3 separate regions of the Homo sapiens genome follow, and all the other regions are linked to region 3. Evidence: fine-mapped expression QTL. A gene starts in region 3. Each other region holds a variant in brackets. All regions are shown on one strand. Distances are between the middles of the regions.

The links.
Region 1: its variant is fine-mapped to the expression of IPPK in whole blood (TOPMed, PIP above 0.99). The same link has a PIP of 0.9 or more in blood mononuclear cells.
Region 2: its variant is fine-mapped to the expression of IPPK in fibroblasts (GTEx, PIP 0.99).

The regions. Positions count from the first base shown.
Region 1 is chr9:92,208,683-92,219,584 of GRCh38, reverse strand. It overlaps IARS1 (isoleucyl-tRNA synthetase 1), which reads left to right. Exons shown (of 34, transcript NM_002161.6): 34 at 8,696-9,378. The coding sequence ends at 8,778. LOC112268048 (a long non-coding RNA gene) reads right to left here and starts at 10,136. Exons shown (of 2, transcript XR_002956919.2): 1 at 9,990-10,136; 2 at 9,427-9,531. RefSeq lists an enhancer at 4,314-5,210. The variant G/A (reference allele first, on the strand shown) is at 4,698.
Region 2 is chr9:92,788,276-92,799,177 of GRCh38, reverse strand. No RefSeq gene overlaps it. Among named protein-coding and RNA genes, the nearest start is that of BICD2, 29 kb to the right of the region's middle. RefSeq lists enhancers at 111-611, 612-1,112. The variant A/C (reference allele first, on the strand shown) is at 5,521.
Region 3 is chr9:92,664,566-92,675,467 of GRCh38, reverse strand. IPPK (inositol-pentakisphosphate 2-kinase) reads left to right here and starts at 5,337. Exons shown (of 13, transcript NM_022755.6): 1 at 5,337-5,560. The coding sequence starts at 5,480. LOC107987095 (a long non-coding RNA gene) reads right to left here and starts at 5,106. Exons shown (of 2, transcript XR_001746837.2): 1 at 4,795-5,106; 2 at 922-2,602. RefSeq lists enhancers at 3,340-3,509, 3,767-4,061, 4,816-4,865, 4,876-5,325, 6,066-6,235 and a silencer at 5,366-5,545.

The DNA.
Region 1 (10,902 bases), 460 kb after region 3:
TGTTTGTTTTTTCTTGTAAATTTGTTTGAGTTCATTGTAGATTCTGGATATTAGCCCTTTGTCAGATGAGTAGGTTGCGAAAATTTTCTCCCATTCTGTAGGTTGCCTGTTCACTCTGATGGTAGTTTCTTTTGCTGTGCAGAAGCTCTTTAGTTTAATTAGATCCCATTTGTCAATTTTGTCTTTTGTTGCCATTGCTTTTGGTGTTTTAGACATGAAGTCCTTGCCCATGCCTATGTCCTGAATGGTAATGCCTAGGTTTTCTTCTAGGGTTTTTATGGTTTTAGGTCTAATGTTTAAGTCTTTAATCCATCTTGATTTTTGTATAAGGTGTAAGGAAGGGATCCAGTTTCAGCTTTCTACATACGGCTAGCCAGTTTTCCCAGCACCATTTATTAAATAGGGAATCCTTTCCCCATTGCTTGTTTTTCTCAGGTTTGTCAAAGATCAGATAGTTGTAGATACGTGGCGTTATTTCTGAGGGGCTCTGTTCTGTTCCATTGATCTATATCTCTATTTTGGTACCAGTACCATGCTGTTTTGGTTACTGTAGCCTTGTAGTATAGTTTGAAGTCAGGTAGTGTGATGCCTCCAGCCTTGTTCTTTTGGCTTAGGATTGACTTGGCGTTGCGGGCTCCTTTTTGGTTCCATATGAACTTTAAAGTAGTTTTTTCCAATTCTGTGAAGAAAGGCATTGGTAGCTTGATGGGGATGGCATTGAATCTATAAATTACCTTGGGCAGTATGACCATTTTCACGATATTGATTCTTCCTACCCATGAGCATGGAATGTTCTTCCATTTGTTTGTATCCTCTTTTATTTCCTTGAGCAGTGGTTTGTAGTTCTCCTTGAAGAGGTCCTTCACATCCCTTGTAAGTTGGATTCCTAGGTATTTTATTCTCTTTGAAGCAATTGTGAATGGGAGTTCACTCATGATTTGGCTGTTTGTCTGTTATTGGTGTATAAGAATGCTTGTGATTTTTGTACATTGATTTTGTATCCTGAGACTTTGCTGAAGTTGCTTATCAGCTTAAGGAGATTTTGGGCTGAGACAATGGGGTTTTCTAGATATACAATCATGTCATCTGCAAACAGGGACAATTTGACTTCCTCTTTTCCTAATTGAATACCCTTTATTTCCTTCTCCTGCCTAATTGCCCTGGCCAGAACTTCCAACACTATGTTGAATAGGAGTGGTGAGAGAGGGCATCCCTGTCTTGTGCCAGTTTTCCAAGGGAATGCTTCCAGTTTTTGCCCATTCAGTATGATATTGGCTGTGGGTTTGTCATAGATAGCTCTTATTATTTTGAAATATGTCCCATCAATACCTAATTTATTGAGAGTTTTTAGCATGAAGGGTTGTTGAATTTTGTCAAAGGCTTTTTCTGCATCTATTGAGATAATCATGTGGTTTTTGTCTTTGGCTCTGTTTATATGCTGGATTACATTTACTGATTTGCGTATATTGAACCAGCCTTGCATCCCAGGGATGAAGCCCACTTGATCATGGTGGATAAGCTTTTTAATGTGCTGCTGGATTCGTTTTGCCAGTATTTTATTGAGGATTTTTGCATCAATGTTCATCAAGGATATTGGTCTAAAATTCTCTTTTTTGGTTGTGTCTCTGCCTGGCTTTGGTATCAGAATGATGCTGGCCTCATAAAAGGAGTTAGGGAGGATTCCCTCTTTTTCTGTTGATTGGAATAGTTTCAGAAGGAATGGTACCAGTTCCTCCTTGTACCTCTGGTAGAATTCGGCTGTGAATCCATCTGGTCCTGGACTCTTTTTGGTTGGTAAGCTATTGATTATTGCCACAATTTCAGAGTCTGTTATTGGTCTATTCAGAGATTCAACTTCTTCCTGGTTTAGTCTTGGGAGAATGTATGTGTCGAGGAATTTATCCATTTCTTCTAGATTTTCTAGTTTATTTGCGTAGAGGTGTTTGTAGTATTCTCTGATGGTAGTTTGTATTTCTGTGGGATCGGTGGTGATATCCCCTTTATCATTTTGTATTGCGTCTATTTGATTCTGCTCTCTTTTTTTCTTTATTAGTCTTGCTAGTGGTCTGTCAATTTTGTTGATCCTTTCAAAAAACCAGCTCCTGGATTCATTAATTTTTTGAAGGGTTTTTTGTGTCTCTATTTCCTTCAGTTCTGCTCTGATTTTAGTTATTTCTTGCCTTCTGCTAGCTTTTGAATGTGTTTGCTCTTGCTTTTCTAGTTCTTTTAATTGTGATGTTAGGGTGTCAATTTTGGATCTTTCCTGCTTTCTCTTGTGGGCATTTAGTGCTATAAATTTCCCTCTACACACTGCTTTGAATGCGTCTCAGAGATTCTGGTATGTTGTGTCTTTGTTCTCATTGGTTTCAAAGAACATCTTTATTTCTGCCTTCATTTTGTTATGTACCCATTAGTCATTCAGGAGCAGGTTGTTCAGTTTCCATGTAGTTGAGCGGTTTTGAGTGAGATTCTTAATCCTGAGTTCTAGTTTGATTGCACTGTGGTCTGAGAGACAGTTTGTTATAATTTCTGTTCTTTTACATTTGCTGAGGAGAGCTTTACTTCCAAGTATGTGGTCAATTTTGGAATAGGTGTGGTGTGGTGCTGAAAAAAATGTATATTCTGTTAATTTGGGGTGGAGAGTTCTGTAGATGTCTACTAGGTCCGCTTGGTGCAGAGCTGAGTTCAATTCCTGGGTATCCTTGTTGACTTTCTGTCTCGTTGATCTGTCTAATGTTGACAGTGGGGTGTTAAAGTCTCCCATTATTAATGTGTGGGAGTCTAAGTCTCTTTGTAGGTCACTCAGGACTTGCTTTATGAATCTGGGTGCTCCTGTATTGGGTGCATATATATTTAGGATAGTTAGCTCTTCTTGTTGAATTGATCCCTTTACCATTATGTAATGGCCTTCTTTGTCTCTTTTGATCTTTGTTGGTTTAAAGTCTGTTTTATCCGAGACTAGGATTGCAACCCCTGCCTTTTTTTGTTTTCCATTTGCTTGGTAGATCTTCCTCCATCCTTTTATTTTGAGCCTATGTGTGTCTCTGCACATGAGATGGGTTTCCTGAATACAGCACACTGATGGGTCTTGACTCTTTATCCAATTTGCCAGTCTGTGTCTTTTAATTGGAGCATTTAGTCCATTTACATTTAAAGTTAATATTGTTATGTGTGAATTTGATCCTGTCATTATGATGTTAGCTGTTTATTTTGCTCGTTAGTTGATGTAGTTTCTTCCTAGTCTCGATGGTCTTTACATTTTGGCATGATTTTGCAGCAGCTGGTACCGGTTGTTCCTTTCCATGTTTAGCGCTTCCTTCAGGAGCTCTTTTAGGGCAGGCCTGGTGGTGACAAAATCTCTCAGCATTTGCTTGTCTGTAAAGTATTTTATTTCTCCTTCTCTTATGAAGCTTAGTTTGGCTGGATATGAAATTCTGGGTTGAAAATTCTTTTCTTTAAGAATGTTGAATATTGGCCCCCACTCTCTTCTGGCTTGTAGGGTTTCTGCCGAGAGATCTGCTGTTAGTCTGATGGGCTTCCCTTTGTGGGTAACCCGACCTTTCTCTCTGGCTGCCCTTAACATTTTTTCCTTCATTTCAACTTTGGTGAATCTGACAATTATGTGTCTTGGAGTTGCTCTTCTCGAGGAGTATCTTTGTGGCGTTCTCTGTATTTCCTGAATCTGAACGTTGGCCTGCCTCGCTAGATAGGGGAAGTTCTCCTGGATAATATCCTGCAGAGTGTTTTCCAACTTGGTTCCATTCTCCCCATCACTTTCAGGTACACCAGTCAGACGTAGATTTGGTCTTTTCACATAGTCCCATATTTCTTGGAGGCTTTACTCATTTCGTTTTATTCTTTTTTCTCTAAACTTCCCTTCTCGCTTCATTTCATTCATTTCATCTTCCATCGCTGATATTCTTTCTTCCAGTTGATCGCATCGGCTCCTGAGGCTTCTGCATTCTTCACGTAGTTCTCGAGCCTTGGTTTTCAGCTCCATCAGCTCCTTTAAGCACTTCTCTGTATTGGTTATTCTAGTTATACATTCTTCTAAATTTTTTTCAAAGTTTTCAACTTCTTTGCCTTTGGTTTGTATGTCCTCCCATAGCTCAGAGTAATTTGATCGTCTGAAGCCCTCTTCTCTCAGCTCGTCAAAGTCATTCTCCATCCAGCTTTGTTCCGTTGCTGGTGAGGAACTGTGTTCCTTTGGAGGAGGAGAGGCACTCTGCTTTTTAGAGTTTCCAGTTTTTCTGTTCTGTTTTTTCCCCATCTTTGTGGTTTTATCTACTTTTGGTCTTTGATGATGGTGACGTACAGATGGGTTTTTGGTGTGGATGTCCTTTCTGTTTGTTAGTTTTCCTTCTGACAGACAGGACCCTCAACTGCAAGTCTGTTGGAATACCCTGCCGTGTGAGGTATCAGTGTGCCCCTGCTGGGGGGTGCCTCCCAGATAGGCTGCTCGGGGGTCAGGGGTCAGGGACCCACTTGAGGAGGCAGTCTGCCCGTTCTCAGATCTCCAGCTGCATGCTGGGAGAACCACTGCTCTCTTCAAAGCTGTCAGACAGGGACATTTAAGTCTGCAGAGGTTACTGCTGTCTTTTTGTTTGTCTGTGCCCTGCCCCCAGAGGTGGAGCCTACAGAGGCATGCAGGCCTCCTTGAGCTGTGGTGGGCTCCACCCAATTCGAGCTTCCCGGCT[G/A]CTTTGTTTACCTAAGCAAGCCTGGGCAATGGCGGGCGCCCCTCCCCCAGCCTTGCTGCCGCCTTGCAGTTTGATCTCAGACTGCTATGCTAGCAATCAGCGAGACTCCGTGGGCGTAGGACCCTCCGAGCTAGGTGCGGGGTATAATCTCGTGGTGCGCCGTTTTTTAAGCCCATCGGAAAAGCGCAGTATTCGGGTGGGAGTGACCCAATTTTCCAGGTGCCGTCCGTCACCCCTTTCTTTGACTCGGAAAGGGAACTCCCTGACCCCTTGCACTTCCCAAGTGAGGCAATGCCTCGCCCTGCTTCGGCTCGCGCACGGTGCGTGCACCCACTGACCTGCGCCCACTGTCTGGCACTCCCTAGTGAGATGAACCCGGTACCTCAGATGGAAATTCAGAAATCACTGTCTTCTGCATCGCTCACCCTGGGAGTTGTAGACCGGAGCTGTTCCTATTTGGCCATCTTGGCTCCTCCCCCAATTTTTGTAATTTTAGTAGAGACAGGGTTTCACCATGTTGGCCAGGCTGGTCTCAAACTCCTGACCTCAGGTGATCCACCCACTTGGGCCTCCCAAAGTGCTGGGATTACGGGGGTGAGCCACCACACCCAGACCATTCTATTCTTTGAGTTTCCGTCTTTCTGTTTACATTGCCCGTCTGCTCTGCTTGTTCTGTTATGTTTCTGTTGAAGCCCAGTTTTAAGAAGCATACGTCTAGTTCCTTGGAGACACTGACAACCCAGACACACTTTAAACTCAATCATTTTGGACCATAGGGAGAATGTTAAGAAAGCTGTGACTGGGTCTGCGTGGTGGCTCACTCGTGTAATCCCAGCACTTTGGGAGGCTGAGGTGGGCAGAGTTCAAGACCAGCATGGCCAATATGGTGAAACCCCATCTCTACTAAAATTAGCTGGACATGGTGGCACATGCCTGTAATCCCAGCTACTTGGGAGGCTGAGGCAGGAGAATCTCTTGAACCTGGGAGGCAGAGGTTGCAGTGTGCTGAGATTGCATCACTGCACTCCAGCCTGGGCGACAAGAGTTAAACTCCATCTCAGAAAAAAAATCTATGGCATTCCCAGTCATACACAAAGGCCAGGAGTTGTGATGGAGACAGGATCTGTCTATCCCTACTCCAAAACAAAGCTAAGTGAGGTGATTTTCTCTGTATTGGTTTCTGTGGCTGCTGCAACAAATTTCCACAAATGGGATGGCTCAAGTCATCTCACAGCTCTGGAGGCCAGACACTGAAATTAGGGTGTCAGAAAGGCCACAGTCTCTCTGAAGGCTCTGTGGGAGAATTCCTTATATACTTCTTCTAGCTTATGGTGGCGCCAGGCATCCCTTGACTTGTGGCCACATCACTTCAGTCTCTGACTCCGTGGTCACATTGCCTCCTTCTCTTCTGTTTCCTCTTTTTCCAAATAAAGTGAACATTCACAGCTCCTGGGAATTTAGAACCTGGGCATATCTTTGGAAGGCCATTATTAACCGATTACATTCTCTTCACTTTTTCTCTTGTGGTGAAGGAACTTACTCAAATTAACCCTTTTGCTATGGGTTTCTTATTTGAAGTTCCAGTTTCTTCAGCAGAGATTTGTTGGACTTCCCGGTTTGTATATACCGGAGGCTTTTCTTTCCCTGCTTTCCTAGCTCTTTAGTGCCAAAAGCATTAAGCCACCAGACCCCATGGGAGTCATTATTTTTGGCCTCTGTGTAATTCTCCCGTTTTCTTCCTGTGCAGCTTTTTTTTTTAAATTTAGTTGCATATCGTACTTTTAAATTTTCTGTCATGATGTTAAATACTAAAGCTCTATTTCTTCTTGGGTTCCTCCTTCCCTCCCTGGGTTTATTTTCAGTGACTCTCCTTTGTCGTTTTCCCTCTCATCTCATCATTGGGCCTCATCATCCATCTAAGTCACCAGTCTGCAGTCTGTACTCTTCACCAGAGCTATCTTCATGAACATTCCTGCCTTGATTTTGTTCCCTTGCTTAGAGCCCCCAAAGCTCCTTATTCTCTTATGCCTCAGAATCTTCCCTTCCACACAAGATCCTTCCTGCTCTGGGCCTTCCCTGTCTTGCTAATTCTGTCCATGAGTCTTTCACTCTATCAAAGGCTTTTTTCACTCTCCCTCGAACACACTTGGCTCTTTCATTGTGGTATGGTAGTAAAGATCATCTAATAATGTAGCTTTCTATTTTGATAAGCTTATATAAAACTTTAGAGATAATTCTTAACTCTTCTTGTCCCTCAAATCCTTTGGTCACCAAGTACTGTTGTGCAGTGGAGCTGAAGATGACATTTATCTCTCACTTGTTCTTGCAAGCAAATGCAGTGGCATGATTGAACCTGGTCAGGGGTAGAACCATGTCTGTATGAATTATGTATTTATAATACTACCTGCAATTCACAGAACCATTCTTAACCTGTGCTGCCTTTCTGTATTCTCTTTACTCTGTGACGTTAGTTAGGCAAAAGTTTAGTGGGTGAGAACTTTTAAATGTTTAGTGATTTATCTAAGATTACCACAAAGTTGGAACTTTTTCTAATTCAGTATCTTTCCAATCTAGTATCTATAGCTTCGTTTTCATTATGCCTTTTCTCTCAGAATTGTCTTTCATAAAGTATCAATAACTTGGTAAATTAGAAGAGCCACAAAATGTTGACCATTTTAGAAACCCTTAGATGTCTTCTTGCTTGCTCCACTAAACTCTAAACATCATCTCCAGGTCCTGTAATTATCTATTAAGGAAGTAGCTTTGAGAGTATTCTCACATCTAGGATTGCTGCTAGGTAGGACAAGAGCTATTTTTAAAGGAAGCTCATCTGTTTGCTTTAAATTCAGATCTGACTAGAAGCAAAATGCTCCACAGTAGGCAGATAACTTTAAATTTTCTTTTTTTTTGTTTTTGAGTTGTATATTCAGTATATTTCAATCAATTGCATTTGGGTTATATTTTTGGATGCTCAGAGTTTTCGTCATTGGCCATATTGGATCCTGTATTCTTTAACATGATCCTTTGTCTTTGGTAAATTCTTGCTTTCTCACGTAGCAACATGTCCTAGGCTTATTATGTACTTTTACTTCTCCAGACGTAGAAAATAGCTGTTCTTCAAATTATAGAGAATCATATTTTGAAACCACATATCTGGGATACTGAGTTGGCACAGCCTCTAGGCTTTTTTTGTAGACATAGGAAGTATCTGTGTATGAGGAAAAATAACCATCTTGGCAGTACCCAGAGTTAGCCAAACTGTGAAGTGATGGCATAGTCCTCCAGAAGGCTCCAGGAGTCTGCCCGATATCTAACTCCACCTGCAAGGAGTGAGGATTCTACTCAGGGAAAGATCCACACAAGACCCCCATCACTGCTGGCACCAACTGCAAGTTCCAGGGATTTTCCTAAACCACCCTCAGGTTCAGTAACCTGCTAGGAGGACTCAGACTCACTAAAAGGTATTACACTCATGGTTTGAATTAGGGTAGGGAAAGGATACACGTTAGAACCAGCGAGAGTGAGAGAGAGAGAGAGACCCTGGAGTCATGGATAATGTTTCTTCCTCTCATCCCTTACATCTGACAACACAGAGACTATATTACCAACCAGGGAAGCTCACTCGAGCCTTGGTGTCCAGTTTCTGTTGAGGTTTCATTCTGTAGGCATGATTGCTGTCTTTCTCAACTGATATACCATGTGACCCAAAGTCCCCATCCTAAATCATATACTTGGTCTTTCTGTCCTGGCCAGCACTACCCTGAATTGTCTCATTAGCAACAACTGTCAGGTTTGGTGAACATACCCACCATGAGAAACAAAGATTCCTACCAGGAAATTCCAAGGATTTAGAGGTTCACCTCAGGAGCTGGGACAAAAGGCAGAACTCTTAGGATAAGGCCAAATTCCTTACTACACAAGCAGTTAACATTTTTTTAAATATTCACCCCCAATAGGTAAAATACTGATTTTTTTTCAACTTTTTCTTTCCATTCTAGAAATTACAGAAGACATCCCCGTGAAGACTTTGAATATGAAGACTGTGTATGTTTCTGTGTTACCAACAACAGCAGACTTCTAGCATGTACTTATCAATGTTGTTCGGTCAGCCCTTCCCTAATTACACCTATCCCCTACACATACATGCACATAGACACACACATGAACACACTGAAGATATTTCCTTCAGGTGTGTGTAAAATATGCTGCTTGGATTGAAATTCAAATGGGATTGATTAGTCAAGTAACTTGAGACCTCACAGTAATCTTCACACTTAACCTTAGACACCTATGCAGTCATGTTGGGAGCAGGTTACAATGTTACTTCAGCCCACAGTTTATTTCTATACTTGAGTTCTTAAGTACAGAAGATAGAAGTGATTTAAATGGCATAGTATATATATCATTTTCTGGCCTTTTAAAATTTATTTGAGACCTCTTGATGAAATGGACATATTATATATTTCTGCCACCTGGATTTTCCTGGATAATTTGATGGAATATTTTAAGTTTCAGTAAATCAGAACAATAAACAAACTCAGATATAAATGTGTTGAAAGTAATTCATTCTCCCATAGATAAATGAAACTTGAAATGTGTAAACTTTGAAGAACATAAAAACTTCATGGTGGTTTCTTATTAAGACAGTGGACTAGACATCTAATAAAACTTCTTTCCAAAATCCCAGGTGATAATTTGAGTCCTCAGAGAAGCAGATGACATGACAAAGTTAGATGTGCAAGAATTTATTAGAGGAAACATAAATGGAGGATAAACGGGAGATGGAGCAAGCGTAGGTCGAGAGAGCCTTCAGACTGCAGTGTGGGTCTGACACCTGTAAAAAGAGAAAATGAAGATTGATTAGCAAAAACTTAGACTGCAGTGCAACTCTAAGATGAAGTCTTGGTCAGGCCAATGGAGAGTTCCCAAGCAAGGATTCCTTTTAGTAGAGTTCAGAATTGGGCAGAAATAGCCTGGCTTTGTTTCTCTGACTTCCTCAAGTCAGTTTCTGGGAGGAGACCAAGGGGAGCGTGGCCTTCGCACAAATGCCTTGATGGATCTGAAAGTACCAACTACACTCCTCATGTCAGATTCTTTTGAAGGGAGATCTGAATGATACATCCCTATGGCTACTACAACAGATGCATTCACACAAAAACCCACAAGTTGGAGAAAATAGAGGAAACAACCAGAACTTGGGGAATTGGAAAGCAGATAGACGGTGTTAACTAACTTGGTAGACCCAGGAAACCCCAATTCTAAATCAATGGAGGAACTGATAAACTTACTTACATTTCAGAATTCACAGCACCAGTTAACCTCTGGGATGAAAGGTAGAAGAGGCACAGAAATAGGGACGATTGCGTGAACACTGGGAAGCCTTATAGCTTCTCCCATTTCCACGTTGCTAAGCAACTTTATTCCCCCCACAGTTGGCATCTGGAAGGTAAAAAGTGACTGGTTGGTAGAAGTCGGAGTGAATGGAAGACAAGAGTACTTGTAAGCCTGGAGGATTCCTAAAACCAACCCTCAGCTTAGATAATTTGCTAGAAAGACTCAGAACTCAATGAAAGCTATTGTATTCGTGGTTACAGTTAATGACAGGGAAATGTTAAAGATCAAAATCAGCCAAAGGAAGAGGAGAGGGCAGAGCCCGGGAGAAGTACCAAACACAGCTCTTGTCCTGTCTCTCTGAAGTCAGCAAGCATTACTCTACTGGCATCAGTGTGTGACAGTATGCACAGAGTATTGCCAGCCAGGGAAGCTCACCCAAGCCTTGGAACCCAGAGTGTTTACTGAGGCTGCTTTACATATCCATGATTGATTGTCCATGTGGTTAATCGCAGTCTCTAGGTCAGCTGCTCGTGCATGACCCAAAACCTCCACCCTAAATCACATTGTTGGTATTTCTGATGTGTTGTACACCCCCCCCACCATAAGACTGTATAGATTTGTCCCACCCCAGCCATAAATCATACTGTCAAGGCTATTCAGTATGATTCAAGATCCCCAGGTAAACAGAGGCATTCCTATGTAGCATAACATCCAAGGGCAAGGCCAAATTCCTTTATACAGAGTACTGTACTGGAAACAAGATTAAGTGGCTTTATGTATACTGTCCACTATACCAAAGAAGAATATAAAAGATTGACACCAAGTATTGGCTGGGAAAAAGGCTCACTCTGAACAATTAACTTTGAAGTTG
Region 2 (10,902 bases), 120 kb before region 3:
GTCATGGCAGGGTTTACTCTGTCAGCCATTCTCCGATGACCAGGAGCTTGTGCTGTGAGAGGGCTGCACTGTCCACCACTTCTCCCCAACTTCCCTCTAGTATCCAGGGACCACCCCGGCCTTCTCCAGTCTCCACTGTGATGGCCAAGCCAGTTTCCCTCAAGAACTGCTAATATAAAGGAACACCTCAAGCTTTAATTAGAAGTTACTTCCCACAGAGACTTTCATCCTAACGGAGCAACTAGACTTTAATAATTGAGGACCTCACTGATCTGTGGTCAGTGTGCCTCATCTCTCAAGTGGATTCCCTGGGAGATTTGTTCACCATGTTATCTTCTTTAAGCGTTCTGAACCTAAGAAAAAAATTCTCTTTGCATGGGGATGAACCACAGATCCATGAAATCATATTTCGATCATCTCTTTGTTTTAACCATGCAAAAACACCTTTGCGGTTCCTTCCCCTACTGGCTTGAGCCTTGGCTTTTTTCTGTTTTTCAACAAGTGGAGGCTCAGAAGTCCCCGAGCAGGAAGGTGCCCATAGCCCGCCGCATGCCCAGCCTCACTGTGCTCTGCCCCAGGGCTGCACCTCCTCTGCTTCGCCCAGCACCTGGAATGTCCCTCCTTCTGAACAACGCCAAGGCTGTGTCTGTGCAGCTGCCCCGCCCGCTGCCCCTAAGGGCTCCTATAAGGCCTGTGCATCCCTCTGCCCTGGCGCTGGGGCACCGCCTTGCGTCAAACCCCATATTGTCTTCTCTCCCTCTAGAGAGTTAGCTTTCAGGGAGGACAGAAAGATGGAAAGGTAAAAATATTGCTGTTTGCTGTAAATAGTACATTGTGAAGGAACAAAAACATGCCTTACAAAAAACACAATTGTACCAAAACAGAGACAAAAGGTGGGCTGGATTGTTTCCCAAGGATCCTTTCATTTTTAATGTTCATTGTTTCACTCTTAGATGCACTGCTAGTTATATCACAGTTCAACATGCACTTTATAAAGCTGGTTTTTTTGTCATTGAACATGTTTTGAAAAATGTACAATGATCACAGACACCCTTTTGCTGGAGGCTCTCTCTAGGGTCTTATTCCATGTTTCTTTGTAGATAATGATAGTACAGTATGTTTATTTCTCATGGGTTGTGAGGAGACTAAATGATTAAATATATGTAAGTGCCTGGGACAAAATTTGGCACCTGCATGCCCTAAATAAAAGCTTATTAACTAAATACATGGATTTGGAATTATTGGCTCCATTCTATGTAATTATTCCTGACCCAGAATGTCTTAAGAAATATAGTCCCTGGACCTACCTCTGGCAACCACTGCCGCTCATCACTCATCCCTTTTGTCTGCCTCATTTTAGTTACTAATGGGTGCACCTGGGTTTGGGGATCAGGGAAGACAGTGGACATGGACTCGTACCAATACCTGGACTCTTCACACACCAAATCCTGGGGGCCAGGCACTGTTGTAGGTGCCAGATATTTAATTCACATCACAGATGTGCCATGTAAGTACAACTATTTCCCCTATTTTATGACAAGGAAATTCAGACCCAGGCAGCTTAAATAACTTTCCTAAGTTATTCCCCTACCACTGCCACCCACCCCCAACGAACCCCAGCTCAAGCCTAGGCTGTCAGGGTTTGTGTTATTAACTGTGTGCTTGAATCCAAGAAGCCCAGGGGTCCTGCCTGTGTCAACAGCCTGGGAGCACAGCGACATGAGCTCAGAACCAGGAATCATCATCAAGTCTGTGTTCCTTTTTCCCAGGCATCTGACACATGGTCAGTTGGGCCAGAGACAGGAGAGGAACTTCTAGAGTTACTTAGCAGAACGGAGGCTGGAGACAGGTTGGCCCTGACATCACAGGGGCTGTTCTCTTTCCTACTGGTGTCTCCCTCCTGGGAAAATTGTGGGTGACAGTCATGGTGACAGTACCTGGGATCTTAGTCAAGCGTCCTATATGGAGTTCTGAGTCTCCTTTGACAGAGTGTCCCGGCATCCTTCATCTGTGATCATGGTGACAGAGTCCCACTCTTTTGTCTCACGGATACTGCTCCTGTGCAGAGGGCGTCACAAAGCTCACTCTGTTGTACATACAGCTGGATGATAGAGAATTTCATTAGTTTGTTTCTAAAGAAATACTAGAAAACAGATTGAATTAGAAAAAATTGGAAGTGGAAAGAGGATTTTTCTAGAGTTGACATTTTTACAAGAATCTAAGCATTGGTATCTAGGGGGGAGAAAGCCCAGAGTAATAACTTACTTAACTGTTGCAAATTGGAATAATGCTAATTAGATTTCATGTGTTGCTCATGATGTTTATTGCTGAAACGTCCATTACCCTGCTGATTCTGGCAGTGAAATAAACATTAGAATTTTTCAACAGCTGTAGTGTAAAATTTTAGAAATTGGACTATGAGTAGCACAATTGGGGTTTACTGTTTTGGATTACCAAAGTGTTTAGCCTTTGCCATTCAGGGTGATTGTGTGGAAGCAGAGGCTGTGTGGGTGGAAGTCACGGCAGACGCTTCCCTGTGGGGCTGGAACCTGGAGGCTGCTCTGCAGGGGGCTGTGAGCATCCCTCCTCGTGAAGCCATGGGTGGCTATTAGGTAATGCAGCAGTTGCAAATAAGAGCCAGGGTGTCCTGGTGACTGCTGCACCTTGCCCCTAGTAGGAAATGCTGCTGCCTCTGAGCAGGGCTCAGGGGCTGTGAGCAGTGATTGGCAGCGGCAGGGCTGTGCAGCCTGAGCTCCTGATTCCTCGGACCCACGTGCACACCTGGAGAATGGCGTGCGCTTCACCTCCTGAGCACCAAGGCCCCTCCTTCGTAAGGATTTACCCCATTCATGTGAGCCCCAGGAAGAGTGATGCATTTTCAGATGTTTTTAGAGAGAGGGCTCGTGGAGCACTAATCAGAGCTGTCTATGTTTGAGGATGTTGTTATGGATACATTCATTTTTCAGGATGAAAGTCCACGCTTTCCTCACACAGCAGTCCCTGATGGTTCTCCCTCTGTTCAGGGCCTTCATTACCATGTCTGGCACGACCCTGATGCAAATGAAACATTTCCAAGAACAAGGAGCTATAACAGGAACTCAAATGTTGCATTTATAATGATTCCCACTTCGGCTTTTTGACTTTAGAGTGCAAAGAAAAATGTGCAATTTCTTATTTGGGCAAAAACAAAATAAAATAAACAATGAATGCAAATTCCAAATCAGAGTCTGTTACTGTGAAGTATAGGGCTCTTAAAGGAAACAATCTAACTCTAAAAATGGAACAAACCAGAGCAGCTGCCCTGAAGAATCAAGGTGGTTTCCACCCAAGCTCCACCTGACGCTTGTGAATGGAGAAACCAACGACACCCGTGAGCACAGACCTGCTCTCAGGGAGGGATTTTACCTTCATCTGCACAAAGCACACTGCGTAGATCCATGGGGGCTCATTGGCACTAAATAGAAAAATAGATCCCTTCTGCCTCGTTCCAGTTCACACCCATGTAGCCACAGAGCTGGCAAGAAGAATAAAAGAAAGTTTTAATCTATCCCATTCTCAGTCTCACTGCATTGACATTTATTAACCAACTCCATTACTAAGTATACACTCCAACATTTGCAAAATGCTGACTACATTATGTGCTCTACAGTGCCAGAAGTTAGTTCATTAAAATCTGAATTTAAATTCTATGTCCATTTAGAAACTATTTGTATTATATTCTTCTGTAATTGGTTAATACTTATGAGTCTAAACGCAGGAATATGGATTTTTCAATGAACTTTAAATAACCTTATTGATTAAAGTCAAAGTAATGTTTGCTTAGAAATTACAGGATTAGATTTCATTATTATTTAATTTACTTATTTTTAACTCCTGGCTTGTCAGGAAGATGGCAAAAGTTGATGTGTTCCCTTTTTCCTATACTATGCTATGAAACATGGAATGTGTCATTCTTATCTTACTAAAAATGCAGTGTTGCATCACACTGCAGTATGGTCATGGCACAATTTAGCTTCATCACAGAATAAATCAGTCATAATTTAAGTGCCATTTGCTATGCCTTTCCAATAGAATCCGCCGGTGTTCACATGGCAGATATTATTATGACCAGGCATCATTACAACTGGCCATGACAGGCCAGGCGTGGTGGCTCACGCCTGCAATCCCAGCACTTTGGGAGGCCAAGGTGGGCGGATCATGAGGTCAGGAGTTCAAGACCAGCCTGGCCAATATGGTGAAACCCCATCTGTACTAAAAAATACAAAAATTAGCCGGGCATGGTGGTGAGCGCCTGTAGTCCCAGCTACTCGGGAGGCTAAGGCAGAAGAATCTCTTGGACCTGGGAGGTGGAGGCTGCAGTGAGCGGAGATCATGCCACTGCACTCCAGCCTGGGAGACAGGGCAAGACTCCATCTCAAAAAAAAAAAAAAAACGATTGACCATGACTCGGTAATTCCTGGGCTTCAAAGTCAGTCGCCTTGTCTTAGTTCACAGGCTTGTATTGCAGGACTGGCTTCTGTTATATAGCAGGGCTCACATACTCTCTCCTACAGGGATGTAGGTGGTATTCAGACTAGTTCCTTTTCCTGCTGATTATACTACAGGATGTGGGTTATCCAGAGCAGAGTGCATTGGTCGAAGTTGCAAGAGCTCTCAGAGAGCTTCCATAGGTTTGGAGACCCATACGATTCCCACAGGTGGGCCCCTTGAGCCTCAGCAACCAGGACAGAGGGCCACTGCCCCACGGCCACTTTGGCCTCCATCTGTAACAAAATAGTCAAGTAACCCTGTTGGATCTAGGGAGAAGCCCTTTCCCAACACTGGGTGCTAGCTTTACCCAACGTTACCCAACCCACTTCACCGAAGCCTCATTGTCCTCCCAGGCTGACTCCCACCCCTTGCTCCCTTTAATCTGCTTATTTTTTTCAATAAATTTTTCCCCACTGAGTGCTACTCTTCATCAAAAGCAAATTCAGGCCGGGTGCGGTGGCTCACACTTGGAATCCCAGCACTTTGGGAGGCCAAGGTGGGCGGATCATTTGAGGTCAGGAGTTTGAGACCAGCCTGACCAACATGGTGAAACCCCATCGCTACTAAATACAAAAATTATCTGGGCGTGATGGCGGGTGTCTGTAATCCCAGCTACTCGGGAGGCTGAGGCAGGAGAATAGCTTGAACCCAGGAGGCAGAGGTTGCAGACAGCCAAGATTGCGCCACTGCACTCCAGCCTGGGCAACAAGAGTGAGATTCCCCCTCAAAAAAAAAAAAAAAAAGCAAATTCAGCTCATCCCATGAAGCCGAGGCCAGCACCCGTCTCCCCTAAGGCCCTTTTCTGTCTGGTGGGCCAGTGTTCAGGCCACCATGCATGCTGTTGCCACTGTGTCCTCGTGGCTGAGCGCAGTTAGGATACATGTTTCATTACTCAAAAGTATTGGGTTTCCCCATACTTGCATTTTGTAAGTCGTGGTCACACCTCATTGTCATTTAGTCTGAATATGTCATAGAGGTTTCCATTGTCTT[A/C]CTTGTGCATGGAGGGGCTGCTCCCTTGGGGAATTTGGACCCACCGGGTGATGCCTACTGCTTTAGTTCCATCACCATCCCAGTGGTTTTTCCTGGTTTGTGTAAGAGCTTTCCATTCACAGAACAGGGTGGTTTGTGTCTGTGCACAACACACTGTGGCATGTTGGACAGGCCACCATTCTATGTCGTCCAAGATAACCAGGGAGAACTTTGTAAGCCTCTGATCACCTGGGTTTATAGTTACACAGGAGTCAGTCAACCAGCAATCATACACTACACAGTCTGATGCCCCAATAGGGAGTAGTTCCCAAAAAACCCTTCCCAAAAGATACCCTTTGTTGTAGATGTACCCTGAAAAGTCAGAGTTGAAAGATGCTAGAGTTCCACTTGGTCATCGTCGTGTGACCACAGTGTCTCTGACAGTGATGTCACTAGGTTTGCAGGTTGCTATTCGACCTTGTCAGATTCCTAAAACAGGGATGGTTTGACAAACACACAAGTTTACCCTTTCAGGCATCTGGTATAACTGTGCTAAGAGACAATATAATTCCCTTGCTCTGAGCTTACCTCGAGGCACCAATATATTGTTGGGTTTCTCTCATTGCATAACCCATTTATTCATTCCTTTGCCCTCAGCTACTATTTCTCCTTCTCTCCATTTGTCATTGATTTTCACCCAACTTTCACACCTTTAGAAAGGATGAAGGGATGTTAGGTTCATCCACTGTGTAGGCCCAGATGGCCAGCAGTGTAGGCCCAGATGGCCAGCAGCAATACCACTTCAGCAGGTGCCTCCCGCAGGGCCATTTCCAGTCATGTAAGGTAGGGCTGCAAAGAGACGAACTGTGAGGCTGCCCTGACCACCAGGAGATACAGCTGCACTCACTGTCCACCTCTGATTTGCCAGATGCAGTGGAGGCACAGCTATCCCATCAGACCTTTAGGATTTCTGACACAAATGTTAAAAGATATAACAACTGTTTCTCACTTAAGAATCATTCCTGCCTCTGGCCGGGTGCGGTGGCTCATGCCTGTAATCCCAGCACTTTGGGAGGCCAAGGCCGGCGGATCACAAGATCAGGAGTTCGAGACCAGTCTGACCAACATGGTGAAACCCTGTCTCTACTAAAAATACAAAAATTAGCTAGGTGTGGTAGTGTGAGCTTTACCTACCCAGTGGCAGATGCTTCCAACACTTGCAGCTGTGGGCCTGATCTCAGGCTCTTTTCAGCAGGTAGGAGACAAGAAAGTTGAGGTGCTGTTGTGAAGAACTGCATAGTCGTAGCAGCATCCTTCCCGGCCATCTTCCCCAGATCACCCCAAGAGTGGAGGGATCTATCTAGTGGGGATCCTCCTTGACCACCACATGTTAAGTGTGAGCACACATGCATGGAGGTGTGTAAGCCTTCACGCTTTTATCTCTCCCCATGTAAGATAACAAACATTTCCATTGCCCATTTCAATTCTCTCACAAACTACTCTGAGGATAATGTGCAGCATGATATACCCATTTGATGGGATGTCTCCTTGCCCTGTGTAGGTTGTAAAGTGTGTTCCTTGGTCCGAAGGTATGTAACTTAGTGACACACATTGATACAGTGACTTCTGCTCAGTACTTTTATAGTATCTTGAGCATTTGCATCTGCCACTGGGTAGGTAAAGCTCAGTCCAGAGTAAGTGTCTATTCCTGCCAGAACCCATTTATAAACTCCCTCCAGGGCTACCAGCAGGGGTCCCGTACAGTCCACCTGCCAGCTGCATGTGCGGTGTTCTCCCTCTGGGGAATCTGCCCCTTAGCCACCTGTGGTCTCCATCTTCTTGTTGTCAAGGCATTTCTTGTTGGCATTTGTGTCTCTGAGGGTGCAGGAGGGACATGTTTCTGAGCAGCCCATCCCTGCACTGTCACCCACTCCTTTGTTGAACCTAGGTGGCCACCTCAAGTTTGTTCACCAGGATATCCACCTACCGGATCTGATCACAGATCCTGGGAGGGATTCTTCAGGTGGGCATTGATATGACCTACTTTAATGTGCCCCTTAAATTCCTGCAGTGCTGTGCTCCATGTTGGCATCCCTTCACAGCCCAGTTTGCCATTGCCCCTCTGCCTGGTCACATGGCCAGGCCATTGGCCACTGCCCATGAGTCAGTAAAAACCCAAACACGAGCTCTTATGATTGTTCCATTCTTTCATCGCAGCAAGAAACGCAGCATGCAGTTCATCTAGCTGGGCTGATTTGTTCTTGCCTTTTTCAATATGAGTTTTCCCATTATTGCTCATGATGTGGTGGCCTTCAGATCTGGATGTTGTCCATCCACCTTGAAACTGCCAACCACAAACCAAATAGCTCTTTGTTGTCCATTGAGAGCTGTTCATGGGGCACCATCCATGATGCCATAGACCTGGCAGATCCTCAGCTGGTTCCGAAACCGGCCAGAGGGGAAAAGCCCTCCTTGCATTCCTCTGTATCATGCTCCTGTAGAAACCATTTCCGTTTTATTATGGAACTCTTCTGAGCAGTGCCTTCCTTATTGAACTGTATCTCTGCCATCCCCCAAGACAACATGTGTATTTCAGGCTTTAAGATGAGAGTATGTCCTTCAGTCTTAGGGGCAGTTTCAATTAATGCCCAATCGCAAGCTACTACCTACCAGGTCTGGGGATTTCCTGGTCCAAAATCCCAGTGGTCACCACTGGGTGGCACTCATGCATAATGTTATTGCACAGAGACCACAGTACCAGGATTCCAGCCTCCAACAGGTTATTAAAGTGAAAGTCTCTTTGCCCACCAAGCATTTTACACTTTTTCAAATTAACAACCTGTCTGGGCTCAGGCCCGTGGGTTCCCATTTAGCGTGTCCAATTAATATGGGCCAAAGGGCAAACGTCCGTGCCTTCTGCTTCACAATACTAGATACAGACCTGTTCCCCAGTCGGACATAATACCCATCCTGTTAACACATTCAGGTAAAGGAGGTGCAACCACTTCACATAAAGTCCATTCAAAATTCCTATTTTCTTCCATATTTTCACCTTAATTACATCAACCCATCAACCATTGAGATCGTGAGAGTAGGGCCTTAATGATGATGTGGAGGTTCACACCTGTAATCCCAGCACTTTGGGAGACAGAGGTGGGTGGATCACTTGAGGCCAGGAGTTTGAGACCAGCCTGGCCAACATGGCAAAATCCCGTCTTTACTAAAAATACAGGCCGGGCACAGTGGCTCAAGCCTGTAATCCCAGCACTTTGGGAGGCCCAGGTGGGTGGACCAAGAGGTCAGGAGATCAAGACCATCCTGGCTAACACAGTGAAACCCCATCTCTACTAAAAATACAAAAAAATTAGTCGGGCATGGTGGCAGGCACCTGTAGTCCTAGCTACTCGGGAGGCTGAGGCAGGAGTGTGGTGTGAACCCCAGAGGTGGAGCTTGCAGTGAGGCTAGATCATGCCACTGTGCTCCAGCCTGGGCAACAGAGAGAGACTCTATCAAAAAAAAAACAGAAAACAAAAATTAGCCAGGTGTGGTGGTGCACACCTGTAATTCCAGCTACTTGGGAGGCTGAGGCACAAGAATTGCTTGAGCCAAGGAGGCATAGGTTGCGGTGAGCTGAGATCATGCCACTGCACTCCAGCGGGACACAGAGTGAGACTCTGTCTCACTAAATAAATAAATAATGATTTTTTTTTAAACGAGGGGATTAGTGTCCTTATAAGAAGAGCGACACACCTGAGAGCTAGCATGCTGGTGCCCGAGCTCTCTCTCACTCAACCCATTGTGAAGACACAGTGAGAAAGCTGCCACTACAAGCCAAGCAGAGAGCCCTCACCAGAACCCGACCTTGCTGGCACCTTGATCTTGAACTTCCATCCTCCAGAACTGCAAGGGAGTAAATTTCTTTTGTTTAAGCGCAGCATGTGGTATTTTGTTATAGCAGCCTCAACTGATGACACATGTTTACACCATCTGACCTAGGTTTGGGTTGACCCCAGAAGACCAAATTCGACTGGCTGGGACTGAGAAGGGAAGAGAGCAAAGTCCAGTATGAAACCTAAATTCTAAGATGACTTTAACTCTTAACAGTTTACTTCATTACTTAATAGGAAAAACGTAAACTCCTAAAGTTGTCTTACATCTGAATTTTGGGAGATGGAATGACATGTAGTGAAGGTGAGGGATCCTCCCGTTTCTACTTAAAACATTAAGGCCATTCAGTGGCTTTAATGAAAAGACTAGGCAAGCTTTCAACTTAGACACTGTCTTTCTCACAAGTTCTGCTAAAATTTCCTATTAATATGTTCAGTGTCTGAATTGAATTTTGTGTTAGCCCACATGGTACCTTCTCATTGTTTTCAGTATTCAGCAAGTGGCCCACTTGACAGCTTCTTTCCATCTAGAAGCTTCACTTTCTCTCTACTTTCCAAAATCTAGACAGGAAAGTTAACTCATAAAATCTAAAAATGATTTTAAAATCTTGTCACTGGTAGACAGAGAGAGCACTACCTACCATCCTAAAATGGTACAAAGACTGCTCCTTTTAGTTTTTCTTTGTAAATATCTGTGGTCTTCAAAAATAGATCATATTTCAGCTACACATATTAACACCCACACAAAAACATTACATTTTATTTTAGCTTAAAAGTGAGCATACTATATGGACTTTTAAAATAATACAGCATGAAGTCTTACTTTTCCCCACCATGATCCACTTCAAAGCCATCTGTAATGTGTCAGCCACTTCTGTGAGGTCAGCCATATGTGCATTACATGAAACATGCTTATGGAAATATTAAAAATTAGAAATCATTTAAAAGTGCATCTCAGGAAGCAGGTGCACACTCTTACAGAATGTATTTGTAATTCTTTTTTATTTTATTTTATTTTATTTTATTTTATTTTATTTTATTTTTCTTGAGACAGAGTCTTGCTCTGTCTCCAGGCTGGAGTGCAGTGGCACGATTTCGGCTCACTGCAACCTCTGCCTCCTGGGTTCAAGCAATTCTCCTGCCTCAGCCTCCCCACTAGCTGGGATTACAGGCATGCAACACCACGCTGGCTAATTTTTGTATGTTTAGTAGAGACGGGGTTTCACCATGTTGGCCAGGATGGTCTTGATCTCTTGACCTCGTGATCCACCCATCTTGGCCTCCCAAAATGCTGGGATTACAGGCGTGAGCCACCACGCCTGGCCTATAATTCTTTTATAAACATTATGTGTTGAAAATGGGACATATTAATCTGTAGAAAGATAACTGTACAACCTAAGAATACTCACAATTTATTTCCTATACTAAGATACATCAAATCCTAATTAGATACTCCCTTCTTGCTGTTTTTAAGCATTTAAACAAAAATGTTAAAGCTGCCAGATTTTTTAAACTG
Region 3 (10,902 bases):
AGGAAAGTGAATTTCCTCCCCTAGTTCTTCCCACTTTCCTCTTTCCAGTGGGGCTAATATAATAATCTCTTTTCCTTTTTCGTTTCATTTATACACATTCTCACACATTTGTTTTACTTAACCATAGGCTTTCAACATCTTTCAGGTCAGTACAAAACAGGTCTAACATATATTTTTACTAGCTGTATGGTTTTTCTGAGTATGTCACCATTCAGCAATTCTGAGACTCATCTGGGAACTTGTTAGAAATGCGGAGGCCATCCTGAAGTGTCCCAAGCTGAAAACCAAGTCCTGTCATCACTCCTCCTGTCTGTATGAACACCCTGTACCTATCTCTGAGTATTTAAGGGAGAGTTCCATAGGATTAAATTTCTAGCTGTGGAGATGAGTCAAGTGAGATTAGTGGCATTAATTTTAATAATATGGCCAAACTGAACTTTAACATTGCAATGCCTCCCCACCCTCACCAGCAGTGCATATGTGTGCTGTCTGTCCCCTCCCCATCACCCATGGCAAACACTGCCTAAGACTGTTTCACCACACTGATATATGAGACACTTCATTATTTGTTTTTTGTCTGTTTTTGAGACAGAGTCTTGCTATCACCCAGGCTGGAGTGCAGTGGTGCGATCTCGGCTCACTGCAACCTCCGCCTCCTGGGTTCAAGCAATTCTCCTGCCTCAGCCTCCCAAGTAGCTGGGATTACAGGTGCCCGCCACCAAGCCTGACTAGTTTTTGTATTTTTAGTAGAGTTGGAGTTTCACCATGTTGGCCAGGCTGGTCTTGAACTCCTGACTTCAAGCGATCCACTCACCTGGGCCTCCCAAAGTGTTGGGATTACAGGCGTGAGCCACTGTGCCTGGCCGACACTTCATTATTTGAATTTCAATTAATTATGAAAGGAGCTGAACAATGAGTGTCTTCTTTTTCTGTAAATGAACTTTTTATTTTGGGATTAGATTTACACAAATGTTGTAAAGGTAGTACAGAGTTCCTATGTGCTCTTCACCAGCCGCCCCCAAAGTGAATACACATAACTGGCACATGCCCAAACAAAACAACTTACATTAGTACACTACTATTAACTAAACTTTAGGTTTTATTTGGATTTTACCTGTTTTCCCATCAATGTCTGTTTCTGTTCCAGGATCCAATCCAAGATCCCACATTGCATTGAGTCATCATGTCTCCTTAGGGTTCCCTGATCTGTGACACTTCTTCAGTTTATCCTTGTCTTCCATGACCATGGCAGTTTTGAAGTCCTGGTTAGACTGGGTCAGTCTCCCGTTCCCCCAGATCCTTCCTTCTCCTGGTCCGTGTCTCAGTATGAACTGTGTGAACTGTGTGAATTGTCCCTCAATTTGGGTTTGTTTAATGTTTTCTAATGATTAGAAAGGGCTTATGGGTTGGGGGGAAACGCCACAGAGGTGAAGTGCCTTCTCATCATGCCATGCCATATCGTGGCAACGCATGGTATCACATACTTTCTTAGTAAGGAAAATTCCGAACACACATAAAAATAGCAAGAGTAGAGTAAGAACTCATTACTTGGTACTCCACAATTACCAATGCTTTTCCACCCTGTTTCTGGATACTTTTCTTTTTCTTTTTTTTCCAGACGGAGTCTCACTCTATCGCCCAGGTTGGAGTGCAGTGGCACAATCTCAGCTCACTGTAACCTCTGCCTCCTGGGTTCAAGCTATTCTCCTGCCTCAGCCTCCCAAGTAGCTGGGACTACAGGTGCCTGCCACCACGCCCGGCTAATTTTTGTATTTTTAGTAGAGACAGGGTTTCACCATATTGGCCAGGATGGTCTCGATCTCCTGACCTTGTGATCCGCCCGCCTCATCCTCCCACAGTGCTGGGATTACAGGCGTGAGCCACCGTGCCCGGCCCTGGATAGCTTTTCAATATGGTTAGAAGACATTTTCATTTTACTTTTCTGTTCTCTTCTCCATCCTTCCTTCTTCCCTCCCTTCCTCTATCTTTCCTTTTTAACACAAAAGGAGAAAGCACTAACAGTGTTGGCAATCTATATGGGACCTAGATAGAAGAGCATAACACATCTAATTAAATTGCTCCCTCTCTTGGCTCAGACTGCCATGACAAAATACCATAGGCTGTATAGCTTAAACGACAGACATGTGTTTCTCATGGTTCTTTTCCAGCCTTCTTTTCTTCCAGCCTCCTCAGATGGGAACCCTCTCCTCTGCATTCCCACTGTTCGTCCCCATATTTGTTTCTTTTTTCTTTTTGAGACGGAGTCTTGCTGTCACCCAGGCTGGAGTGCAGTGGCAGGATCTCAGCTCACTGCAGCCCCACCTCCTGGATTGATGCAGTTCTCCAGCTTCAGCCTCCCAAGTAGCTGAGATTACAGGCACACGCCACCACATCCAACTAATTTTTGTATTTTTAGTAGAGACGGGGTTTCACCATGTTGGCCAGGCTGGTCTTGAACTTCTAGCCTCAGGTGATCCGGCCATCTCGGCCTCCCAAAGTGCTGGGATTACAGGCGGGAGCCACCGCGACCGGCCCCCTATACTTCTTTCAAAGCACCCGAGTTCAGGAGGGGAAATGGCATGGTCTGCCCAGGTGCTGTTGCCTGTGAATTTAAAAAGAATGATAAAACCAAATTTGGATTTAAAAAACCTTTTTTTCAGACAACATCTGGCTCTGTCACCCAGACTGGAGTGCAGTGGTGTGCTCTCAGCTCACTGCAACCTCCACTTCCTGGGCTCAAACAATCCTCCAACCTCAGTCTCCTGAGTAGCTGGAACTACAGGTGTGTACCACCATGCCCAGCTAATTTTTTTGTTATTTTTTGTAGAGATGGGTTTCACCATGTTGGCCAGGCTGGTCTTGAACTCCTGAACTCAAAGTGATCCACTCACCTGGGCCTCCCAAAGTGTTGTAATTACAGGCGTGAGCCACCATCCCCAGCATGAATCTGCTTTTTATCATCACCATATAATGGCAATTTTAAAGTATCAGGGATATAATACACCTCCATGGGGGAAAAAATCAAGATACAGAACATTTCTAGCACCTTAGAGGTTTCAAGGAAATATTTTAATGCTTAATATATTATTTAATCTCACCCCAACTCTCCTTTTTGCAGGGTGCTGAGGAACTCAACTGCAGTCATGTTTAAGCTTCCCTGGCCTTGTGGGGGCGTGGGAAGGACTGAATTTTGTGAGCCCTAAGGTCCTCTCTCTCTGTTGGGAGCTACTTACCTCCAGGAGTGGCTGTTTCTGCCCCCATTTCTCAACCATCCCTGTGGAGGGTCCTGAGCCACCTCCCACCCAGCTTCCCCACCACCCCCCCCCCACCGCCTCCTTTTTTCTCTTTCAGACGGAGTCTTGCTCTGTTGCCCAGGCTGGAATGCAGTGGCACGATCTGGGCTCACTGCAACCTCTACCTCCCGGGTTCAAGTAATTCTCCTGCCTCAGCCTCCCGAGTAGCTGGGATTGCAGGCGTGCACCACACACCCAGCTAATTTTTGTATTTTTAGTAGAGATGGGGTTTCACCATATTGGCCAGGCTGGTCTCAAACTCCTGACCTCATGATCCACCGCCTTGGCCTCCCAAAGTGCTGGGATTACAGGCGTGAGCCACCACACCCAGCCTCCCCCACTTTTTTTTTTTGAGACAGAATCTTGCTTTGTCACCCAGGCTAGAGTGCAGTGGCTTGATCACGGCTCACTGCAGCCTCAACCTCCCGGGCACAAGCGATCCTCCCGCCTCAGCCCCTCAGCCCTACAAGTAGCTGGGGCTACAGGCACAGATACCACACCCTGCTAATTTTTTGTAGAGACAGGGTTTCACCATGTTGCCAGGCTGGTTTGGAATTCCTAAGCTCAAGCGATCCGCCCACCTCGGCCTCCCAGAATGCTGGGATTACAGGCATGAGTCACCATGCCCTGCCCCAGCCTCCCTTTTGAGGCCTAAAATGGAGGAAAGAGATGCTCAAAGCCTTCAGCTCATTTTCCTGAGTCACTGGCCTGATTTCACTACAATTCCCAAGGCCTGGCAAGGTGCCCAGCCGTTCTCAAAGTTGGGTCTGCAGGTCCTCTCTTTGTGAACTACATAACTGCAGATGTTCTTCACAATGTGTATGTCAACCAATGCAATATATTGCAGCAGACCGAATGCCGAAGCACATGTGAGAACCTATTAGGTCAGATTTTAAAAAGATTTGCAAAAGTGTAAAACAATACCACTCCTTTATTTTGGTGGTGGGCGTGGAATGTAATGTTTACTTTTTTTTTTTTTTTTTTTTTTGAGATGGAGTCTCACTCTGTCGTCCACGCTGGAGTGCAATGGCGCGATCTTGGCTTACCGCAACCTCCGCCTCCTGGGTTCAAATGATTCTCTTGCCTCAGCCTCCGGAGTAGCTGGGATTACAGGCCTGCGCCACCATACCTGGCTCATTTTTGTATTTTTAGTAGAGACAGGGTTTCACCATGTTGGCCAGGCTGGTCTCAAACTCCTGACCTCAGGTGATACGCCCGCCTCAGCCTCCCAAAGTGCTGGGATTACAGGCGTGAGCTACCGCGCCCGGCTGTTTACTTTTAAACGAAACAACAAAAAACTTTAAAGCATTTTAACTTAGAATGTGGTAACATCGATAGCTGTAACCCACATTAGCAAAAGCTTGGGGCCCTCATTTTTATGAGTATAAAGTGGTCCTGAGACTACGAGTTTGGGAAATGCGGTAGCTCTACGAGGCGGTGCCATTCTTGCCGCCGCATCAGTGAATTTAGGAGAAGGAAGGTCGTTAGCCCTCTGCCTCACCGCCAAGCAGGAGCCTTGCGCTCCAACTGCGTCCCTCGAAGTCTTCAGGCAAAAGCGGGACTGGGGAGTCCAGTCCTGTGGCCCAGCCACATTTCCTCGCGTAGAACGTTGGACAATGTTTTCTACCTCACAGGACCATCCAAATGACTGCGTTAGGTATTCCCATGAAATGTACGATGAGTACACCCTATTCTACAGAAGCAAAAGCTGAGGCTCAGAGACGCCAAGAGGTTTGCTGGGGTCTCGCGACTAAGCGGTCCCAACACCCAGACACCCTGGCTACCCGGGGACTGCCGGTCACTACCGGGCGCCGAAAAGCCGCCGGCTCCTTCCGCCAGCTACACATCCGGCGCCGAGGCCGGAAGCTTCTCTTCCGGCTCCCAAGACCGCGTTCCGGAAATGAGTCGCTCTACCAGTACCTAAGATGGCCGCCGGCCCATCCACCGTCGCGATCGGTGTGAGGAAAGTGTCACGAACCCGGAATTGCCCGACTCCGTCATGGCAGGCGCCGGGGGCGTGGCTTCCGGCGGCCACAGCTTGCTAGTCGCCGCGGCGGGGTCGAGCGGGGGCGGCAGCTGACAGGCGCTCCTCCCCCGACCGCAGCGGCTGGTTCCCAGCGAGGCGGGCGGCCCCCAGCTCGCGTCCCCGAGTCCTAGCCCGCGAGGCGCCAGGGCTGCGCCTGGGCATGGAAGAGGGGAAGATGGACGAGAATGAATGGGGGTACCACGGAGAGGGCAATAAGAGCCTGGTGGTGGCCCACGCGCAGGTGAGCGGTGGACGTGCGGCGCAGGTCCGGTACCTCACTCCGACGGCCGGTATCACCCCGCCCCCATTATCCGTTTCCTCAACAGGGTCGGTTCCACGTCCCCCCAGTACCTTCCTCCTCCCCGGCCGGTCTCCGGAATTCCCCCACCCTCCAGCATCCCCCCCTACCGCTTGGGTTCCTCATCACCCCAGTATCCCCTCTCTACTGGGTCAGTCTCCCATTGCCCCAGATCCTTCTCCTGGCCGGTCTGTCGTCCCCTCAGTATTCCCGTTCCCCGTCAGAGTCAGTTCCACATCCCCCTCCCCGCCCCGTCGGTGCCGCGCTCAGCCTCACGCGGTGCCGCCTCCCGCCTGGATGCCCGCCGGACTGCCAGGCCGCAGTGGGGTGGAGGCTTGGTTGGGACGGAGGGCCCGGCCAGCACTGGAGGAAGAAGCAGAGTGCCCACAGTGCTGTTACTCTCAGCACCAAAAGAGTTCAGCCTCGTGAGACTACGGAATTGCTGTGCTGTTAATAGTAAGGGGATGTTGTCCACAGGTCCTCTTCTCAACCTTTTAGAATTTGAAGGCTTTCACCTGAATTCAACGAGGGTGAAAGTTTTAGAAACTGCAGTAAGATCTCGCAAAGGTGAATCCCAAGAGTGAAGCGTGTGGGTTTCTGTGAGGGCCCAGATCTCTCTGACCTTTTGCTGTCTGGTACAACCACGCAGGAATGTGGCCGGCTGGAACGGGGGAGGGGGGTGAGGGAGGCGAGGATAGGTGTCATGTAGGGAGGAGTTAGAGCATGGGTGTTAAAGGCACAGGAATCTCAGTGTCTACATTTGTGAAGTGGAACTAGTAGTAGAATTCACTTTGTGGGATTGTTGCAAAGACCAGTTACGCAGGAACCCATCAAGTTATGCTTAGCAAGTGATAATTGTCATCCCTTGGACAGATAAATAAAGTGAAAATCAGAGAGGTTAAGGGCATTGCCCGAGTCGAACAGCTTGTCAGGGATGATGTAGGCAGTGGAGTCCTGCCTTGCTTCTGTTGTTCCTATGCTGGGTGCATTGGTCAGCTGTAGTGTAAGCTGCAAACACCCAGGTAGCCCCTAGGTTGTGCCTTTGGATTTTGTTGCTCATTAGCACAGGGAACTAAAGAACAGAGACTACAAGCTTTGCTCAAGATCTTTAGGTGAATTAATAATGGACCAGGCTAACCTAAAGCTGTCCTTCTCTTGTGTAGTCCACTATTGGCAAAGTGAGGGATGTTTCTGCGTGAGTCCTTTTGTTGTTGGGTTACTGTGCTGATCCCCTGAATCCTTTCCCAAAACAAATACTAATCTTCCAATTCCTTGGTAAGATTAGATGTATCTCTGCATTTTAGGTAAACCTAAGACTTTTCTTTAGTGAGGGCTGATACATTAAATTTCAAAAGTAGTGGCAGATGAAGCAGCAAGTTTCAGGCTTGGAGCAAAAGGACACCCATGTTGAAAGAGCAGAGGCTTTGACGCAGTTGCCTCTGGCACTTGGATCTCTCTGCACGTTCCAGACAAGTATGTGTCCACCCCCTTCCCTGAGTAGGCATCTCCAGGGCAGCCTGGCCCTACCCTGTTGCACAGCTCTGATTGTAATGATTGTTTATTTTTATTTATTTATTTATTTAGAAACGGGGTCTCACTCTGTTGCCCAGGCTGGAGTGCAGTGGCGCGATCTCGGCTCACTGCAACCTCCGCCTCCCAGGTTCAAGCGATTTTCCTGCCTCAGCCTCCCGAGTAGCTGGGATCACAGGCATGCGCTACCGTGCCCAGCTAATTTTTGTATTTTTAGTAGAGATGAGGTTTCACCGTGTTGACCAGGCTGGTCTCCAACTCCTAACCTCAAGTGACACCCACCTCAGCCTCCCAAAGTGCTGGGATTACAGGCGTGAGCCACCACGCCAGGTTGATTGTTTATTTTTTCTTTCACCTTTTCAAATTTACCTACAGCCACCAGGCTGTTCTAGACCTATGCTATTCATTCTTTTTTTTTGAGACGGAGTCTTGCTCTGTCTCCCAGGCTGGACTGCAGTGGCGCAATCTTGGTTCACTGCAACCTCTGCCTCCTGGGTTCAAGCAATTCTCCTGCCTCAGCCTCCCAAGTAGCTGGAATTACAGGTGCCTGCCACCATGCCTGGCTAATTTTTTTGTATTTCACCACGTTAGCCAGACTGGTTTCAAACTCCTGACCTCAAATGACCCGCCCGCCTCAGCCTCCCAGAGTGCTGGGATTACAGGTGTGAGCCACTGTACTCAGCCTCATTTTTTATTTTAAATCTAAACTTGCTTTACTGTGCTCATTCCTGCTTGGTTGTTGTTTTTAGCTCATCATTTGAAATTGAAGATTATCACTGCACATAGTCTCATGAGAAAATGTTTCCCATCAAGTTAAGGTCAGATGGAGCCTGTGCCTGATGTGGTAACCTGAACCAAGCCTAGCCCACCAGCTCTGCCCTGTGGCCTGTTTGCTCAGGCTGTGGACCGAGGAGGAGAGAGAGCAATTCCCAGAAGGCAGCTTTTTAGGACCTGTTGAGTTCGAGCAGAGGGTGTGTGTCAGTGGGATAAGAGATGGGTGAGGTAGAATAGGAGGAGTCCGTGGTCTTGTGGATGCTGAGCATGCGCCCAGCCTCCTTCCAGCCGGGTGTGGGAGCAGGTGGACCCTGCTACTGTACTCCTTAGATCCACCTCATTCAGTCCAAGAGAGAGGGAGGCCTTTGCCAAGTTTTTCCAGGTAAGGAGAGGGTTGCTTTCTCTGAGAGGACATCAGCTTCTCTCAGAATTGAAAGGTCCCTAATGAGTCCTGTGCTGACCCCCATCCCCTCTACCATGAGAACATGATGCGCCTTCAGCCAGCCTGAGCTCGTCCTGCAGGAGCCGAGGGCCTAGGTAAGGAGATCTGCATGGTCATTGGCTGTCAGCACTAGAAGGAGCACAGTGATGTTCTTCCTGCAGTATGCAAACATGGGATGAGAGAGAGCCTTCTGTGCAGCGCAGGACTTGTAGGAAATGAGGCCTGGGGATGGAGGAACTAGGTGTGGGCTACAGGAGGGTGGGAGGTTGTGCCCAGGGTGGGCAGGAAGGTAAATAGCAGGCCAGCCATAGAGAGGCGTTTAAAGGTGTTCCTGACAGAAGGTGGTCAGCTTCCCCAAGGCCCTTCCACTCAGAGACGGCCCAGGATGATTCTCATTTTGCCTGTCAGTTTGCATTCTGCCTCTGTTTGGGATGGTTGTGCACCTGAACTTTCCCAGGCACAGGTAACCATGGTGTTCTCTGCCTCATGTGGTGTGGACCCTGTGGCATGCTTGAGAGGCTCTCGGCAGCCTGGCATGTTCCCTGGTGTGTGTCTGGAGCTCCAGACACTGACCCTGTGGGGGCTCCTTGATGAGGGAACTTCCCATCTGGGCACAGTTTCCTCGCTGCAGCCTGAAGGTGCAGTACTTGGGCCAGTGGCCACATCTCAGGTTAGTGAAGTCCACAGGTTGCCCCTTTATGCACTGCCGCAGGATTTCTCTCCTGTGTGACGCCTGCGCCTGCCTCCTTCGCCTTCAGCTTGTTGGTTTTGGCTCAGTGTCCTGTCCTATGAAGGTCACTTTAGGTTTGGTTTGTCATTCCATCTCCTAGGTGTCTTCAGATCTGGATCATGCACTTGTCTGGGGCACTGAGCCCCTTCCGGACCACCTCAGCCTTGGGGAGCAGGGGCAGAAGGTGGCCCACTCCTGTCATGACACTAAGCTGTCATGATGTTTTCCTTCTTACTGACAGAGGTGACAGGAAAGACTTTGCCATTTAGTTGGCTTACCAGCCAACTAAATTGATCACATGTGTGGACAAAGCTGCTCACTTCCAGTTGTTCCAGTTTCGTGACCTTTCTGAGAGTCTGAGAGCTTCAGATCATTTCTGCAAATTGTTTTGTTGCCTGGGGAGTTTTGGTGTCCCTTTGGTACCTGTTTAGTGCTTGGGATATTTGTCTGGGCATTGAAGGTGTGAAGCTCAAGCGGTCAGGTGCCCTTCTACTGTTTCTCTTCTCATCTTGTGTTTTAAGATTTCTGGTTCATAGATCATATATATATGTATTTTTTTTGCCATACAGCATGATTTTGTATATTTTAATAATTTAAATGATTATTTTGTAGTGGATGAATTAAGTCCTTTATATGAGGATGTGTTTACAGTTACGTAGAAAAAGCAGGTTACAAAAGAAGATGCATGATGTGGTTATAATTACAAAATGATTAGAAGAAAATAGATGAAAATGTTCTAAGTGGCTGTAACTGATAGTATCACGAATCACTTTTACTTTTTTTTGTTTTTTAAATATTTTCTGAATTTCCTACAATGGATATGTATGATACTCAGGAAAAAAGATTAATTTTTAAAAAGTTTATACTCTTTGATTTACTAATTTCTGTTCTAGTAGTCCGTTCTAAGGAGATAATTAGAAACGTAAATAAAGATCTTATACACAAAGATATCCATTACAGAATCACTTAGAACAGGTTAAGTGGAAAGCCATTGTGCAGTCCTGCAGGACTGTTAACTGGGCCATACTTCCTACTGTGGATGCTGAAAGCACATACGTTTATGTTCTCTGTTTTTTTCTGACTGTATAACATGTGCCCAAGCCCTTGGTCGCTCCCTTTTACAATTTTTAGCTGGACCTAGTTGAAATAGTCTTAGCTTTCTGTTACTGCTAGCATTTTGTTTAAACTAGTGATGTATTCTGCATTTGGGATTTTTAGTGGCGCTCTAGGCTGACGCAGCTGATGTGGCTTCTTTCCTGGTGATGTTCCTTCTTGTCTCATTTGAGCTCATTGGAGAGCTGTGCTTGTGGCTCGCTCTTTGTTTATTCCTTTCTTTGTATCTGCAGTTGCGTGATGAGGTCTGCTGTTTGGTGACTGCAGCCTGTGACAGTGCCTCTCGTGCACGGGGGTTTGTTGGTTTGGCCTTGGCTCACCTCCTACTTTTACACCTTCTGAGGTCACACAGCCACTTTTCTTCTGCCTGACTGAGCCTCCTTCTGCATCAGAATTCAGTCAGAGCAAAGCTCCCCAGTGACTTCCTGTGTCTTCTGAGAGCTGCGATCCAGGAGGGTGAGAAAAGCATCATTACTGTGTCTGCAGAGAGCAAGGCTGTGCCTAGGGCCCGGCCACTCCTGCCTTGTTGCCAAGCGGTTGGGAGATCTGAGGGCCCGGACTTGCTCACAGTTCCCTGTGGCCCTCACTGTGGGCCTCTAGGCAGCCCTGCTTCCCCTTTACAGGCAGTGAGGCTTTCCATGCCTATAGGGGTCAGCCCCATGCACGAGGTGTGCCTATCCCCACAGGCCTCCCCAT